2 separate regions of the Homo sapiens genome follow, and region 1 is linked to region 2. Evidence: fine-mapped expression QTL. Tissue or cell type: coronary artery. Region 2 holds a variant in brackets; the other region holds the start of a gene. All regions are shown on one strand. Distances are between the middles of the regions.

Evidence for each region. PIP is the estimated chance that this variant, and not a neighbour inherited with it, causes the effect.
Region 1: it holds the start of LSM4, and the variant in region 2 is fine-mapped to the expression of LSM4 in coronary artery (GTEx, PIP above 0.99). The same link has a PIP of 0.9 or more in atrial appendage, blood mononuclear cells, left ventricle, uterus and whole blood.

What each region holds. Positions count from the first base shown.
Region 1 is chr19:18,319,219-18,327,379 of GRCh38, forward strand. It overlaps LSM4 (LSM4 homolog, U6 small nuclear RNA and mRNA degradation associated), which reads right to left and starts at 3,858. Exons shown (of 5, transcript NM_012321.5): 1 at 3,800-3,858. The coding sequence starts at 3,802. LOC105372300 (a long non-coding RNA gene) reads left to right here. Exons shown (of 2, transcript XR_007067157.1): 2 at 2,516-2,779. RefSeq lists enhancers at 1-142, 3,979-4,198, 4,397-4,999 and a silencer at 3,739-3,918.
Region 2 is chr19:18,298,324-18,306,503 of GRCh38, forward strand. It overlaps LSM4 (LSM4 homolog, U6 small nuclear RNA and mRNA degradation associated), which reads right to left. Exons shown (of 5, transcript NM_012321.5): 5 at 7,913-8,180. Among named protein-coding and RNA genes, the nearest start is that of MIR3188, 20 kb to the left of the region's middle. RefSeq lists a cis regulatory region at 2,727-3,146 and enhancers at 6,376-6,755, 6,646-7,151. The variant G/A (reference allele first, on the strand shown) is at 4,066.

The DNA.
Region 1 (8,161 bases), 21 kb after region 2:
GCAACAGAGCGAGACTGTTTCAAAAAAAAACAAAAAACAAAAAAACAAAACAAAAGAAAGACTGGCTAGGCGCCGTGGCTCATGCCTGTAATCCCAGCACTTTGGGAGGCCAAGGTGGGCGGATCACGAGGTCAGGAGTTCGAGACCAGCCTGGCCAATATGGTGAAACCCCATCTCTACTAAAAATACAAAAATTAGCCAAGCATGGTGGCGCACACCTGTAGTCCCAGCTACTTGGGAGGCTGAGGCAGAAGAATCGCTTGAACCCAGGAGGCAGAGGCTGCAGTGAGCTGAGATTGTGCCACTGCACTCCAGCCTGGGTGACAGTGACACTTCATCTCAAAAACAACAACAACAACAACAAAAAACCCAAATAGGGTTGGTGCAGACCCACTCTCACAACACTCCTCAGGCCCGCTATAGAGTCAAGGCAGACAGGCTCTGCCACACTGGCCGCCACACCCATTCCTGCCACCTGACCTTTGCTTCTGCTATTGCCTCTGCCTGGGGTGACCTTCCCCAGGCTGCTGAAACGTCACCTCCTTTGGCCAGGCCCTTTTAATGGCCACCCTCTGCCTCATGGGTGTTTGTTTCCATCATAGGATGCAGCCAGTCTTTAATTACCTTGTTTATTACCTGTGTCCCTCGCTAGACTGGAACACTCAAAGTGGGTGTGGACTTTGTCCAGGGCCAAGCACAAGGCCAGGCACATGAGAGGGACTCGGTAAATATTTGCTGAATAAATACACAAGAAAAATGCACACACTACCCAGGGAGGCATGCAGGGAAGGCAGAACACTCGCCCCACCCCACAGGTAAGGGAAGGAGTGGCTGCGGGACAGGGAGCTGCCTGACTCCCAGGCCCTCCCAGGCTGCAATGGCCTGGGCCTGTGACCATATATCTTGATTTCTCCTACATCCTCATCTCCAAACTCTGTTGGAGAGAGGTCAGAGGAAGGGGTGGATCCTCAAAATCTTAAAAGAAGATACATCAAAGTGCCAGGTGAGGCTGGGCACAGTGGCTTGTGCCTGCAATCACAGCACTTTGGGAGACTGAGGTGGGAGGATCGCTTGAGCCCAGGAGTATGAGACCAGCTTGGGCAACACAAAAGATTCTGTCTCTACAAAAAATCTAGAAATTAGCCAGGTTTAGTGATGCATGCCTGTGGTCCCAGCTACTTGGGAGGCTGAGGTCAGGTGGGAGGATCACGGGCCAGTGAGGTTGAGGCTGTAGTGATTGTGCCACTGCACTCCAGCCTGGATGAGAGTGAGATCTCAGCTCTGAAAAACAAAAAAAGTCTAGAGTGCAGTGGCTCACGCCTGTAATCCCAGCACTTTGAGAGGCCGAGGTGGGTGGATCACCTGAGCTCAGGGGTTCAAGACTAGCCTGGCCAACATAGTGAAACCTGATCTCTACTGAAAATACAAAAATTATCCAGGTGTGGTGGTGCGTGCCTGTAATCACAGCTACTTGGGAGGCTGAGGTAGGAGAATCACTCTCGGAGAGGTGGAGGTTGCAGTGAGCTGAGATTACACCACTGCACTTCAGCCTGGGCGACAGAACAAGACTCTGTCTCAAAAAAATAAATAAAATGAAATAGAAAAAGAAAAAAAGTGCCAAGTGTGATAGGAGAGGCCCCACCCTGGTTTATGGAAGGTCACAAGAAAATTCAGAAAAGAGAATTCCTTTCTCTGGGCTTTCTTGGAGCATCTGGAATCTGGTTCTCAGGTCTAGATCCACGAGGACCTAAACCCAGTGCCTCCTAATTCAGGAAGCTGTCCAGGACTGCCCATCCCCGCTGCTAACCTAGGCCACTCCTTCTGGCCCTGCCCTGACGACAGGGAACTGGAAGTGTGTATCCTGTGATGGCTTGTCCATTCTCGGCTACTCCTCCAGGAAACAGCTGGACAGCCAGGACTCTGGATGTTCAGAAGGTGGGAAGGGGCTGAATGAATGAGTTCACACTTTGCCCACGCACCGTTCTACATACTGGGAATCTAGTCGGAAGAAAAACGAAGATCCTGCTCCCACAAAACTTAACACAGGGATGGATCCTTCCAGCTCTGCCCAGTCTTACATGCCAACTCTGCCCTCTAAGTACACCGCAGAGAGGGACAGGCTCTCTGAATCCTTGCACTTGAAATCGCCTTTGCAAAAATTGTAGCGGGAAATTATGACAGTGAAAAGAGATCAGACCTAACCGACTCCATTGTGCTTCTAACCTTTACGCCATCTTTGCTTATTCCTAGGTATAGGCCAAACTAACCTTGGGAAGGGATTTAGTTTATAGTTTGACTCTGGAACAAAATTGGTAATAGCCCTTTCCCGAAAAGACCCTCTTCTTGCCTGGGGACCAGTCTGCCTTTGTAGGACTAACAAATAAGCTACAAGATTAGAAATTACCATTTAGGTAACTTCAGCCTCTGGCTGCAAGAGTCTGAAACTCCCCAAATTGCTCCTTGGGATAACATCACTATTATAAAATCTAAGATCAGTGCTTGAGATATTTTGCAGACCCCGTACTTGACGGATCAGCTGACACTACCCAGACCAGTAATCTGGCTCAACCAGTCCTGCGATCCCACCCAGGAACAGAAGACAGCAAGAAAACCTCACTTCAACACTCCCGTCGATGACTCCATCGACCTCAGGAAGCTCCAACCAATCAGCACTCCCCACTTCCTGAGCCCCTACCCGCCAAATTATCTTTCAAAACTCGGATCCCCTAATGCTCAGCGGAGACTGATTTGAGCAATAATAAAACTCTGGTCTCCTGCATAGCTGGCTCTGTGTGAAATACTCTTTCTCCACTGCAATTCCCCTGTCTTGATAAATCTGTCTAGGAAGACAGGCAAGGTGAACCCATTGGGTGGTTACACACTGACCAGCCGGATTTAGGGAGAGTTCTCACTAATCCACAGTTCTGATGCAGCCACCCCTGGGGGACCCTCCTGGTTACTGAATCTCCCACTGTCTCACAGAGTCTGGAAGTCACATCCCCAACAAGGGCCTTGGTTTCTCTCATTGAAAAAAGAAGGACCAGAAGCTGATGGGCCAGGAAACTCCCAGCTCTGAATTCCTTTTCCGATCTGCACAGTGGGGGACACGGGCACTTTCTAGCCCAGATCCAGAACTTCCAGAATCATAAACAATGGGCCCTGCAGAGACCTGGGCCGCAATTTTTCCTTCTTTGTATTGGGAGGATGTACTTTGTCCACCCCTAGCTCAAAACGCCCCCTTCCGCTGGAATGACATGCTATGTGACCCAAGGAGAAACACCACACCCCAGCACCAGGCCTGCTTTTCAGCCAGAAACCAAGAGGCCTAGGAGGCTGTGCTGCTAGCATCTTGCAAGCTCTGAAATTCCTAAAACTAAGTTTCACAACTCAGACTGGCCCCCTACTTCCCAGCACTCTAGTTTTCAATCAGGGAGGTCAGACTGGGCCCGAAGCGTAAGGGACCCCTTCCCTGCCCAAAAACTCTCTGCTGCATTTGGCGGATCCCCACCTTTTTTTTTTTTACTTCAGTTTCCCCACCTGCAAACTGGGAAAACTAACTAAGGCGAGGCCACTGTACTGTGGATACAAGTCCGTGCAACCCTAAATCCCAGACACGAACGTGATAGAGCCACCTGCAGTCTCCGGCCTCAGTTTCCCAGCCTCGTGCCGGGGGGCGGGACTCGAGGCTCGGACCTTACGTTCGCCCCGCGCCAACCAAGCCCACAGCGCCCGCCCGCAGGGATCCCAACGACTGCTGTTCCCGCCTCCCGGTGAGACCCCGCAGTTGCCCTGCCCTCACCATGGTGCCGGCGGGGACCGGGCTCGCCGGCCACTTCCGCCGCCGCCGCTGCACACGCTCCCGGCGGTCGTCGCCGCGCCGCGCGCCACTAAGCTGAAAGAAAGTGGCAGAGACGCAAGCCAGTCAGCACCGGGCTCGAAGGGCGGTCAACCAATCCACGCGGAGTAGGGCGGGGCCCGCTGGGCGAAAGGGCGGGGCGGGCCGTGTTCCCGCCGGAGGAACGAGGACGAGAGCCGTAAAGTGCCGCGGCTTGTAATGCAAAAGGAGGCGGAGCAACGCGCGCCGGCGCGGGGTGCATTGTGAGGAAATGCGTGCGCAGGTGAAACCTTCGTCGGTCTCCTGGGCTCCACGCTGTGGGCAAAGCCAGTTAATGCCTTTCGTTTGCAGTAGAGAGAGAGAAATCGAGGCTTCGTGGTGATTGGGCCGTGCCTGATGTTGCCCTTCCGACTCCTAGTTTTCTGATTCTGTAATTATCCAGGGAACATCATTTAATAGGTTGGAATCCTGACCACGACCCTCGGGGCCTCAGTTTGCTCCCTGTAAATAGTAGTGTCTGCTCCAAAACGTTGCTTACTGTAAGGATGAAATGAATGAAACCATGTAAAAGCACTTAAAACAGCGTCTGGCACATATTAAGTACTTATTACCTACTCTGTGCCTGTTTCTGCTCACAGAATGAACAAAACACAAAATTCGTGGCCCTCAGGGAGACAGACAGTAAACAAAGTAAATAGGCGAATGCTATTAGTTTTCTGGGGCCTGCTGTAACAAATGCCCACACACTGCGAGGTTTAAAACAACAGAACGTGATTTTCTCACAATTCAAGAGATCAGAATAATGAAGTGAGGTTGTCAGCACAGTTGGCTCCCTCTGGAGGCTCTGAGGACAATCTGTGTGTCCTATGCCTCTCTCCTGGGTTCTGGTGGCTGCTGGGAATCCTTGGAGTTCTTGGCTTGTAGATGCAGCCTTCCGCGTTCTGCCTTTGTCGTCACTTGGCCTTCTCTGTGTGTCTCTGAGTCTCAAATGTATCTCTCCTTTTTTTTTTCTTTTTTTTTTTTGTAGTAGAGACAGGGTCTCCCTATGTTGTCCAGGCTGGTCTCGAACTCCTGGGGTCAAGCAATCCTCCCTCCTCTGCCTCCCAAAGTGCTGGGATTACAGGCGTGAGCCACCGAGCCCGGCCGCTCCTTTTTCTTGTAAAGGACACTCCTTTCTCTTATTAAGTCCACCATAAATTTCAGGATAATGTCATCTCAAGATCCTTAATTACATCTGCGAAGACCCTGTTCTTTTTTTTTTGAGATGGAGTCTCATTCTATCACCCAGGCTGCAGTGCAGTGGTGCGATCTCAGCTCACTGCAACCCCTCCCTCCTGGGTTCAAGGGATTCTTCTGCCTCAGCCACCCGAGTGGCTAGGATTACAGGCACATGCCACAATGCCCAGCTAATTTTTGTATTTTTAGCAGAGACGGGGTTTTGCCATGTTGGCCAGGAGGTGGCCTCGAACTCCTGACCTCAGGTGATCCTTCCACCTTGGCCTCCCAAAGTGCTGGGATTACAGGCATGAGTCACCACGCCCAGCCTCGTTTTTAAATGACTGATGCTATTTATTGACATTATTCATAATATCAAAAGACTGAAAAAAACCCAATGCGACCAAATAATAGAGTAATACAGCTATAAAAAGGAATGAAGACAATCTTCATATACTGACATTGAATGGTGTCTGGATATCTTAAGTGAAAAAAACCAAGGTAGAGAACAGTTTTTACAATATGTCCTCTTTTGTGTGCAAAAAGAGAAATACATGCATGTGTATGTGTATATATATTTGCATGTGTGTGTGTATATATATATATATATATATTTTTTTTTTTTAACCACACCAAGCACGTGAACCAAATTTGCTTATATTTTTAATAAGAAACATAAAGGCCAGGCTCAGTGGCTCATGCCTGTAATTGCAGCACTTTGGGAGGCCGCGGTGGGCAGATCACCTGAGGTCAGGAGTTTGAGACCAGCCTGGCCAATATGGTGAAACCCCATCTCTACTAAAAATACAAAAAAATTATCTGGGCATGGTGGCGGGCACCTGTAATCCCAGCTACTCTGGGGGCTGAGGCAGGAGAATTGCTTGACCCCGGGAGGTAGAGGTTGCAGTGAGCCGAGAACGTGCCACTGCACTGCAGCCTGGGCGACAGAGTGAGACTCTGTCTCAAAAAAAAAAAAAAAAAGAAACGTAAAAAGTACGAACCAGGCCAGGAGCGGTGGCCCATGCCTGTAATCCCAGCACTCTGAGAGGCTGAGGTGGCTGGACCACTTGAGCCCAGGAGTTCCAGACCAGCCTGGGAAATACAGCAGCAAAACCCTGAATCTACAAAAAATGCAAACAAGTAGCCAAGTGTGGTGACTGTGCATGAAGTCTCAGCTACTCAGGAGGCTGAGCAGGGAGAACTGCTTGAGCCTAGGAGGCAGAGGTTGCAGTAAGCTGTGATCCTGCCTCTGCACTCCAGCCTGGGTGACAGAGCAACACACTGTCTCAAAACAAACAAACAAAAGAAGCATGAACCAAAATATAGGCCAGGCACGGTGTCTCACACTTTAATCCCAGCATTTTGGGAGGCTGAGGCAGGTGGATCACCTGAGGTCATGAGTTCGAGACCAGCCTGGCCAACATGGTAAAACCCCATCTCTATAAAAATACAAAAATTATCTGGGCGTGGTGGCGCGTGCCTGTAGTCCCAGCTACTCAGAAGGCTGAGGCAGGAGAATCACTTGAACCCGGTTAGGAGGAGGTTACAGTGCATGCCATTGCACTCCAGCCTGGGTGACAGAGCAAGACTCCATCTCAAAAAAAAAAAAAAAAAAAAAAAAGTAACCTGGGAGAATAAGGGAACAAGATGAAATCATAAGAATGAAAGCCAGACTTCTTTCAGTGTACCTTATTGTCTAGTTTCAACTTTGGAAGCATAATTAAAAATAAAAGTCAAAAGGAAAAATCAAAAGAAATCCCTAAAAATGGAAACAAACAAATGAACCTCACTGTATATCAAGTTGCAAAGACCCTATTTCAATTACAGTCACATTCACAGCTACCAGCAGGTTAGGATTTGGATATACGTGTGTGTGTGTGTGTGTAAATTTTTTTACGACTGCGTCCCTCTTGCCCAGGTTGGAGTATAGTGGTGCCATATGGCTTATTGCATCCGCAACTTCCTGGGGTCAAGTGATCCTCCCATCTCAGCCTCTGAGTAGCTGAGACTGCACACAGGTGTCACCGCCACGCCCAGCTTATTTATTAATTTAATTTATTTATTTATTCATTTTGTAGAGATGGGGGTCTGCTTGTTGCCCTGCCCTCACCGTGCTAGCCTCCAACTCCTGGGCTCAAGAGATCCTCCCACCTTGGCCTCCCAAAGTGCCAGGATTATAGGCATGAGCCACCATGCCCAGCTGGGATATATATTTTTAGGGGCTACTACTCATTACATCAAGTATCAGCTGTGGTAGCTTTAAACATAGGCATTTATTTGAGTAGTTTACTTCTCCACAGTGACATGCCTATAGTTTTTTTTTTTTTTTTTTTTTGAAACAGAGTCTCATTCTGTCACTCAGGCTGGAGTACAGTGGCGCGATCTCGGCTCACTGCAACCTCCACCTCCTGGGTTCAAGCGATTCTCCTGCCTCAGCCTCCCAAGTAGCTGGGATTACAGGTGTGCACCACCACACACAGCTAATTTTTGTATTTTTAGTAGAGACGGGGTTTCACCATGTTGGCCAGGCTGGTCTCAAACTCCTGACCTCGGGTGATCCACCTGCCTCGGCCTCCCAAAGCGCTGGGATTGCAGGAGTGAACCACTGTGCCCGGCCAATGACATGCCTATAGTTACATACACTTGCAAGCAGGACTATAACCTGAATTCCTAGAAGAGGCTTATCTAGGTGCCAATCAAAGGTTCCATCCCCTGGCCACATGCCTTGACTTTCAGGCCTACAAATGAGCAATAGGGGACCTCATAAAGTGACTCCTTGTATCCCAGCCTCCTGAGTCTCAGCACTGCCCTGAGAGCCTTTTCTTACCAAGTCCAGGGTGAGGAACTTCTGGCTGAAAGGACCCTATGCCTCTCAGAGCTGAACTGGGGAACCCTTGTTCAACTTCTCAAAGATTTTCCTGCTGGGCATGGCGGAGCACGCCTGTAGTCCCAGCTACTCAGGAGGCCGAGGCAGGATGATCGTTTGAGCCCAGCAGTTCGAAATCCCAATTCCCTGATCCTTCTGACTGGCACCACATCCAGGTGGAGTGGACTCTGGAGGTCTGAGAAAGCCCAGGGAGCCTTATAAGAGGAAGCCAGGCCAGGCGCAGT
Region 2 (8,180 bases):
TTTTTTTTTTTTTGGAGACAGAGTTTCACTCTTTTTGCCCAGGCTGGAGTGCAATCGTGCGATCTCCGCTCACTGCAACCTCTGCCTCCTGGGTTCAAGCAATTCTTCTTCCTCAGACTCCTGAGTAGCTGAGATTACAGGTATGTGCCACCACACCTGGCTAATTTTGTATTTTTAATAGAGACGGGGTTTCTCCATGTTGGTCAGGCTGGTCTGGTCTCGAACTCCTGACTGCAGGTGATCCGCCGGCCTCGGCCTCCCAAAGTGCTGGGATTATAGGCGTGAGCCACCGCACCCAACCACCTCAGTTTTTTTTGTTAAGTACAGTACATTAGGTAAAAACGAAGGAAATCTGAATAAAGTAGGGAATTTAGTCATTACAAACAAAACAAAACTGCTTCTTAAGTGGTTCAGGGAGGTTGGTTCTCTGAAGGTGTCTCTAGGTTGACTCATCCTCTCTAAGGGAAAACAGAGGGCCAGGGAGGCCCTCACATCTACAGTGTGCCAGCCCTTGCCCGGTACCCTTACCCTTGCTTTTTGTTTTTTTTTGAGATGGAGTTTCACGTTGTCACTCAGGCTAGTGTGCAGTGCCATGATCTCGGCTGACTGCAACCTCTGCTTCCTGGGTTCAAGTGATTCTACTGCCTCAGCCTCCCAAGTAGCTTGGACTACAGGCATACACAGCCACGCCCGGCTAATTTTTGTATTTTTAGTAGAGACGGGGTTTCGCCATGTTGTGGCCAGGCTGGACTCGAACTCCTGACCTCAGGTGATCCGCCTGCCTCGGCCTCTCAAAGTGCTGAGATTACAGGCGTGAGCCACTGTGCCCTGCTCCCTCGCCCTCACTTTGCTCGCCAGCCAGCTGACTGCCTTTTCAACACACCCAGCACACACTTTCTTCAGTGCCTTGACACCTGCCATTCTCTCTAATTGGAAGCCTCAGGTGATCGAGAAACGCTGGATTCCACCCCAGCAGGTGGAACCGAGGTACAGTTCTGTGTGCTCTGTTATCCCCACCTTCCTTAGGCCACCAGAAAGGTCAAGGTGCTTGGTGGTTAGGACAAAGTTGACCGCACCTTGGGGCCACAGAGGCCGTTGAATATGACCAGGGAGGCTGACAGCCTGAGATGACAGCAGGGTGTGAGGGTATCTTGGAGGGCACAGTGCACACCCCTCTCCCACCCTGGGAGGGAGAGGACCCTATAAGTTAAGTGGGGTCTCGAAGCCAGTGGGAGGGTGAGGAGGTGGAATTCAGACCAGCTGGGGGCTCTGTCAAAAGGGCCTGCTTCTGGCTGCCTCAACAATGCAAACGGCAAGAACTTTTTTTTTTTGGTGGGGGGGGGGTCTTGCTTTGTCACCCAGGCTGGAGTGCAGTGGCGCAATCATGGCTCACTGTAGCCTCAACCTCCCTACTCAAGTGATCCTCCCCCTTCAGCCTCCTCAGCAGCTGGGACTACAGGTGTGTACCGCCGTGCTTGGCTAATTTCATTTGTTTTGTAGAGGTAGGGTCTCACTATGTTGCCCAGACTGGGATCCTGGGCTCCAGCCATCCGCCCGCCTTGGCGTCCCAAAGTATTGGGATTACAGGCTTGAGCTACTGTGCCCGGCCAAGAACCATTTTTAAATCTAATTAATTTTTTTTTTTTTGAGATGAAGTTTTGCTCTTCTTACCCAGGCTGGAGTGCAGTGGCGAGATCTCAGCTCACTGCAACCTCTGCCTCCCGGGTTAAAGCAATTCTCGTGCCTCAGCCTCCTGAGTAGCTGGGATTACAGGTGCCTGCCACCACACCCGGTTAATTTTTTTGTTTGTTTGTTTTGGTTTTTTTGAGACAGAGTCTCACTCTGTTGCCAGGCTGGAGTGCAGTGGTGTGACCTCGGCTCATTGCAACCTCTGCCTCCCGGGTTCAAGCAATTCTTCTGCCTCAGCCTCCCGAGTAGCTGGGACTACAGGTGTGTGCCACCAGGCCTGGCTAATTTTTGTATTTTTAGTAGAGACGGGGTTTCACCATGTTAGCCAGGATGGTCTCCATCTCTTGACTTCATGATCCGCCCGCCTCGGCCTCCCAAAGTGCTGGGATTACAGGTGTGAGCCACCACGCCCGGCCAATTTTTATATTTTTTAGTAGAGACGGGGTTTCACCATGTTTCCCAGGCTGGTGTCAAACTCCTGACTTCAGGTGGTCCACCCACCTCAGCCTCCCAAAGTGCTGGGATTACAGGCATAAGCCACTGCACCTGGCCCATTTTTTTAATTTTTAATTTTTTTTCCCAAGACAGTCTTGCTCTGTCACCCAGGCTGGAGTGCAGTGGCATGATCTCGGCTCACTGCAACCCCCACCTCCCAGGTTAAAGCAATTCTCCTGCCTCAGCCTCCCGAGTAGATGGGATTACTGGCGCTCACCACCATGCCCGCCTAATTTCTGTATTTTTAGTAGAGACTGGGTTTCACCGTGTTAGCCAGGCTGGTCTTGAACTCCTGACCTCGTGATCCGCCCGCCTCAGCCTCCCAAAGTGCTGGGATTACAGGTGTGAGCCACCACCCCCAGCCATTTTTTTAATGTTTAAGGAAAACTGCTGGGCAGTGAAGGTCTCCCCAGACAATGTCACTGAGCCCCGGCCTCCCCAACCTGGTCTGAGATTTCAGGGGGTTTCAGAAGAAGCTGACCTTTGAGAAGGCTCTGGGGCCAGGATGTCTGAGTTACTTGATGCTGGAGGGGTGGGGCAAGGAGGGTCTGGCCCTGGTGGTGCAGAGGAGGGGAGATGAGGGTGGGGAAGACACTTGAGGACGTGAGGAGTATTTTTAGGTGCTGAATGCAGCCCTGAAATATTTCCACGGCCACTCCCGAGAGCGAGCTGGGTGACTATTTCGGTGCCTGGTTCCAGTGGAGGCGGGGCAGGGGTGAGTCACTCACTGCCCAGTGGCCGCAGAGGCCAGGCCCAGGCTGGGAGGCGGCTCGAAGGGCAGGATCGCAGGCCTGCAAGGTGAACGGTCACTGGCCTGGGGCCAGGCTTCCTAAGCCAGCCTCCAGGGCACAGAGGACAGCGGCCTTTCTATTCCCCATGGCACTGGCCAATCCAGAGGGGCCACTGCCTGGGTGCCCTGGGACAATGAGCTGCTCACGCCAACCCCATAGTTGTAAAGATGGAGGGTCCCCCGTGAGGTTCTGGACACCCCACAGGTGCTAGGCGAGATGCCATCTTAGATTATTTCAAGCATTTATTGAGCACTTGCTGTATACCAGGCCAGTCCTAAAATGATTACTGGCATCCTCCCTTCATGCAATCTGCCCAATAACCCCCATGAGGTAGAGCTGCTGTTATCCCCCCGACCAGGGAGGAAACTGAGGCACGGTAGGGTTAAGCCCTCCAGGCACCTAACTATGTGCCTCAAATCCTGTCCCTCAGCTGATGTTACAATCAGGGGAGTGAGTTTTAAAGCAGCAGCCGATCTTGCTTACCCCCCACACCCTATTCCCAACCAATTTTGGGGTCCTGACTGTGCCTGAGCTGGGAGAAGGTCAATGGATCCTTCAGGTTTAAGGAGGCAGTGGAAAGAGGAGGTCACCATTGCTGTGTGACCTGGGGCAGGTTCCTCACCCTCTCTGTGCCTGAGCAGTGAATGACGATGCCACCCTATGGGTGAGTTCCGGAGCTGCCTGGCACACATTCATGATAGATAAACAATGGTTGGCTGAGCATACTGGCTCAGGCCTGTAATCCCAGCACTTTGGGAGGCTAAGGTGGGAGGATCGTTTGAGCCTAGGAGTTTGAGACCAGCCTGGACAACATGGTGAGACCCCTATCTGTAAAAAAAATAAAAAACAATTATCGGCTGTTGCTTGGATTGTGTGCCTGTCCTGAGCCTTCATTTCTCCATCTGTGAGGACCCTCGGAGGTGCTGGGTTGGAAGTGGCTTTGGAAACCCACGGGGCTGAGCGGCAAGGCTGAGTGGGAGCTCGGGGAATCCTCGCCCTCACTCGAAGTCTCCTTGAGAAGAGGCTGATGCTTGGCCGGGCGAGATGGCTTACGCCTGTAATCCCAGCACTTTGGGAGGCCGAGGCGGGC[G/A]GATTGCCCGAGGTCAGGAGTTCGAGACCAGCCTAGCCAACATGGCGAAATCCTGTCTCTACTAAAAAATGCAAAAATTAGCTGGGCGTGGTGGCGGACGCCTGTAATCCCAGCTATTCGGGAGGCTGAGGCAGGAGAATTGCTTGAACCTGAGAGACAGAGGTTTCAGTAAGTGGAGATCGCGCCACTGCCCTCCGGCCAGGGCGACAGAGTGAGACTTTGTCTCAAAAAAAAAAAAAAAAAAAAGAAGTGGCTGATGCCAAGCGTCAGGAACAGATCCCTGCAAGTGCCCACCCCAGCTCCTGTAGGGGCTTCTTTTTTATTTTATTTTATTTTATTTTTTCTTTTGAGACGGAGTCTTGCTCTGTCGCCCAGGCTGGAGTGCAGTGGCGTGATCTCCGATCACTGCAAGCTCCGCCTCCCTGGTTCGCGGCATTCTCCTGCCTCAGCCTCCCAAGTAGCTGGGACCACAGGCGCCCACCCGCCTTGCCTTCCCAAAGTGCTGGGATTACAGGCATGAGCCACCGCGCCCGGCCCTGTAGGGGCTTCTGGCCTGAGCCCTGACCCCCTCTGCCCCTTCCCCACAGAAGTTCAGAGGCTCCGTGCTTGCAGTTCCTCCACCTGTTCCGGCTCTCTCTGTGTGGCCAGCAGCTTCTTGTCCACTCGAGACTTGGTTTGACTGGACCTCCTCTTAAATTTTTAAAAAATTTTTAATTTATTATTAGTAGTATCATTTTTTTGAGACAGACTCTCGTTCTGTCGCCCAGGCTGGAGTGCAGTGGCGCTATCTTGGCTCACTGCAACCTCTGCCTCCTGGGTTTAAGCAATTCTCCTGCCTCAGCCTCCTGAGTAGCTGGGATTACAGGCACCACGTGCCACCACACCTGGCTAATTTTTGTATTCTTAGTAGAAATAAGGTTTCACCTCGTTGGCCAGGCTGGTCTCAAACTCCTGGCCTCAGGTGATCCGCCTGCCTCGACCTCCCAAAGTGTTGGAATTACAGTTGCCGCTGTGAGCCACAGCACCCAGCCGGCCTCCTCTTGCTCTGTGGAAAGGAGGTGCCACCTCGGGGTCCTGCACTTCCTGGGCAAGGCCAGCTGGTCAGCCTAGGCCCTGGCAGCCTCCTCCTCCCTGCCCTGAGGCCCCAGCACTGCCCCCTTCCTGCTTCCACCCCTGCTTCTGACTGTTCCAGAACCCTCTGTGGCTGCTTCTCATGTCACTCAGGGCCCACATCCTCCCCATTTCCTGCCCTTCTGTTTGCTCCTGTGTCCCCTGGGCACAGGGCCTTTGCACGGGACTGTCCTCCTGACCCCTGCTGGTCCAGAATGTTCTTTCCCAAGGTGGCTGGCTCCCTCGTCTCTCAGGCCCTTCCTGAATCTTCAGTGTCCTTCTCTCACCTTCCCTGACCACCTCTTCATTCACCTCCTCACGAGCCCGCCCTGTTTCTGGTTTCTTTTTCTTTTTTTTGAGAGTCTCGATCTGTCGCCCAGGCTGGAGTGCAGTGGCGCGATCTCAGCTCACTGCAACCTCCGCCTCCCAGGTTCAAGCGATTCTCCTGCCTCAGCCTTCTGAGTAGCTGGGATTACAGGTTTGTGCCATCACGTCCGGCTAATTTTTGTATTTTTAATAGAGATGGGGTTTCACCATGATGGCCAGGTTTTGAACTCCTTATCTCAGGTGATCCGCCCACTTCGGCCTCCCAAAGTGCTGGGGTTACAGGCATGAGCCACTGCGCCTGGCCTGGTTTCTTCTTTTTACAGCATTTATGCATTTGATATGCATATGCTTGTGGCTGGCTCACTCCTGTGGAAGGGAAGGATTGCCGGGGCTGTGTCACCAGCACCTGGGACAAGGCAAGTGGCCCTAGTGCCAGGCTCGTGCCAGGCCCTGGGCTCCAAAAGAAGAAGGTGGGGAGGGAGGTGACAGGGACACAGGCCATCTGGGGGTGGCTGTCAGAGTAGTGCTGGGAACAGCAGGTGAAGCCCAGAGGAGGAGAGGAGGAGGAGAGAGAGGAGGGGGATGGGGGATGGGAGTGGGGGATGAGTGGAGGAGGATGGAGGAGGAGGGGAATGGGGAGGAAGATGGGGAGTGAGAGGAGGGGGATGGGGGAGGAGAAGGAGAAGGAGGAGGAGGAGGAGGAGAGAGGGATGGCTTCCCACAGCTGCCTCTCGGGGGCCACTGCCCAAGGCCAGCCTCTGCACTTTTGTCCCTGAAGCGGGTGTTTGGCTCCAGGATGAGGTGGCGTCAGCAGCCGACCCGGGCCTGTCGCACTCTGGCGGGGGACTGTGGGCTGGCCCTGCAGAGCTCAGCCCCCGGCTGAGTCACAGCACAGCGCCAGGCGTGGGCCTCCCTAACAGAAAGCAAACTCCAGGCGAGAAGGTCTGGGGGCGGGTGGGGACCATCTACGATAAAGGCAGCCCCAGTTGGGTGAGGAGGGCACAGACCATCGGAGGGACAGAAAGACCTGGAAGCCTTGGATTTAGGAACTAGACTGGTGCTTTTGGTTTCTTTTCTTGTTGAGGGGGCTGAGGATGAGGCTTTGTGAAACCAACCAGGAAGAATGAAACACAGAGCTGGTCCGACACCCAGCTCGAGGGAGGGGGGCCGGAAGCTTCTGGAAGTTGGCTGCCCCTAAGCAGGGGCCACTCTAGCCCACAAGGCCAAGTTGGCAGAGGCAGACGAGGGGACTCTGCGGCTCAAGTCACGGGCCAGGAGCCCGCAGCTGCCGGGCTGGAAAGGTCAGAGCCGGCTCTGCGTCTGGCTGCGCCGGCAAGAAGCCACAATTACGCAGGCAAAAGAGCCCGGGGATTAGCCCCAGCACCTGGGACCCTGAATGGTGAGAAGGCACCTAGGGGGTGTTGGAACACATTCTGAGTTCAGAGCCTGGTCAGGGAGAAAAAACCAAACGGAGATCAGGAAGGGGAAGGGGCCTTCGAGGGCTTTCCCATCCCAACTTCCCAGGATGCCTGACCCCAGAGCTCCTGGATTTGATCCACGCCTCGTGACACACACAACCCCTGGGAGGAAGGAGCCCAGGCCCCTTGGAGAGCCCCAGAGGCCTCTAAGGGCCGGTGAGTCTAGGACATGGGGCAGGAGCTGCAAATGGGGCCTCCCTGCTCCCCACCCTTCCTTCCCTCCTCCTCTAAACATTGCCCCACCCACCTCGCCCTGTGAGCCCAGCCCCCTGCACGGCCCACACTGTAGGGGCATGGGGTGTGCCAAGAGATGCTCCTGTCGACCAGGCGCAGTGGCTCATGCCTGTAATCCCAGCACTTTGGGAGGCCAAGGCGGGAGGATCACTTGAGATCAGGAGTTCAAGACCAGCCTCGCCAACATGGTGGAACTGTGTCTGTACTAAAAATACAAAAATTAGCCGTCTGTGTTGGTGCACACCTGTAATCCCAGCTACTCAGGAGGCTAAGGCAAGAGAATCGCTTGAACACACGAGGCAGAGGTTGCAGTGAGCCAAGATTGTGCCACTGCACTCCAGCCTGGGCAACAGAGCGAGACTCCGTCTCAAAAAAAAAAAAAAAATGCTCTTGTCCAACAGGCAGGTGGGTGCCGTGGGCCGGTGCATCCCAAGGCTTCCAGGCCCGGGCCCCCAACTGCTGCCCCTGCCTGTGTTGAGGGGGCGGGTTTGTGAGGTTCAGGGCAGGCCACATCCTGGACCCCACATGCCCCATCTCTAACCATCAATCAAGTGCCGCTGTGGCGGAGAGGATTCAGGCGACTGCAGATATCCATCCCTGTCCCCCACCCCACACACAAGGAGAACATCCCAGGCGAGGACATTGTAAATGCAAAATCTATACGATGGCAAGTAACTCTGAAGACTCAAGAAAAAGAGTTCCTCACGGACGGGACCTTTTATTCCAATCACCTCTCAAAATAGGTCTCCGAACGAGGACCCTGAAGAGAAGGCTATGCAGGGGGACGGGCCGCTGCCTGGCTCAGGGCTTCCCTCTGGTTTCTTCACGGTCCACAGATGCTACCCGGAGCCTTTCTCGAAAGCGCTGACTCAGTGTCTCAGGTGCGCGCCCGAGGAGTGGCAAACCCGGCCTGGCTCAGAAAGGGGGCAGGAGCCTCGTGAGAATCTTCCATGAGCATCTTCCGAG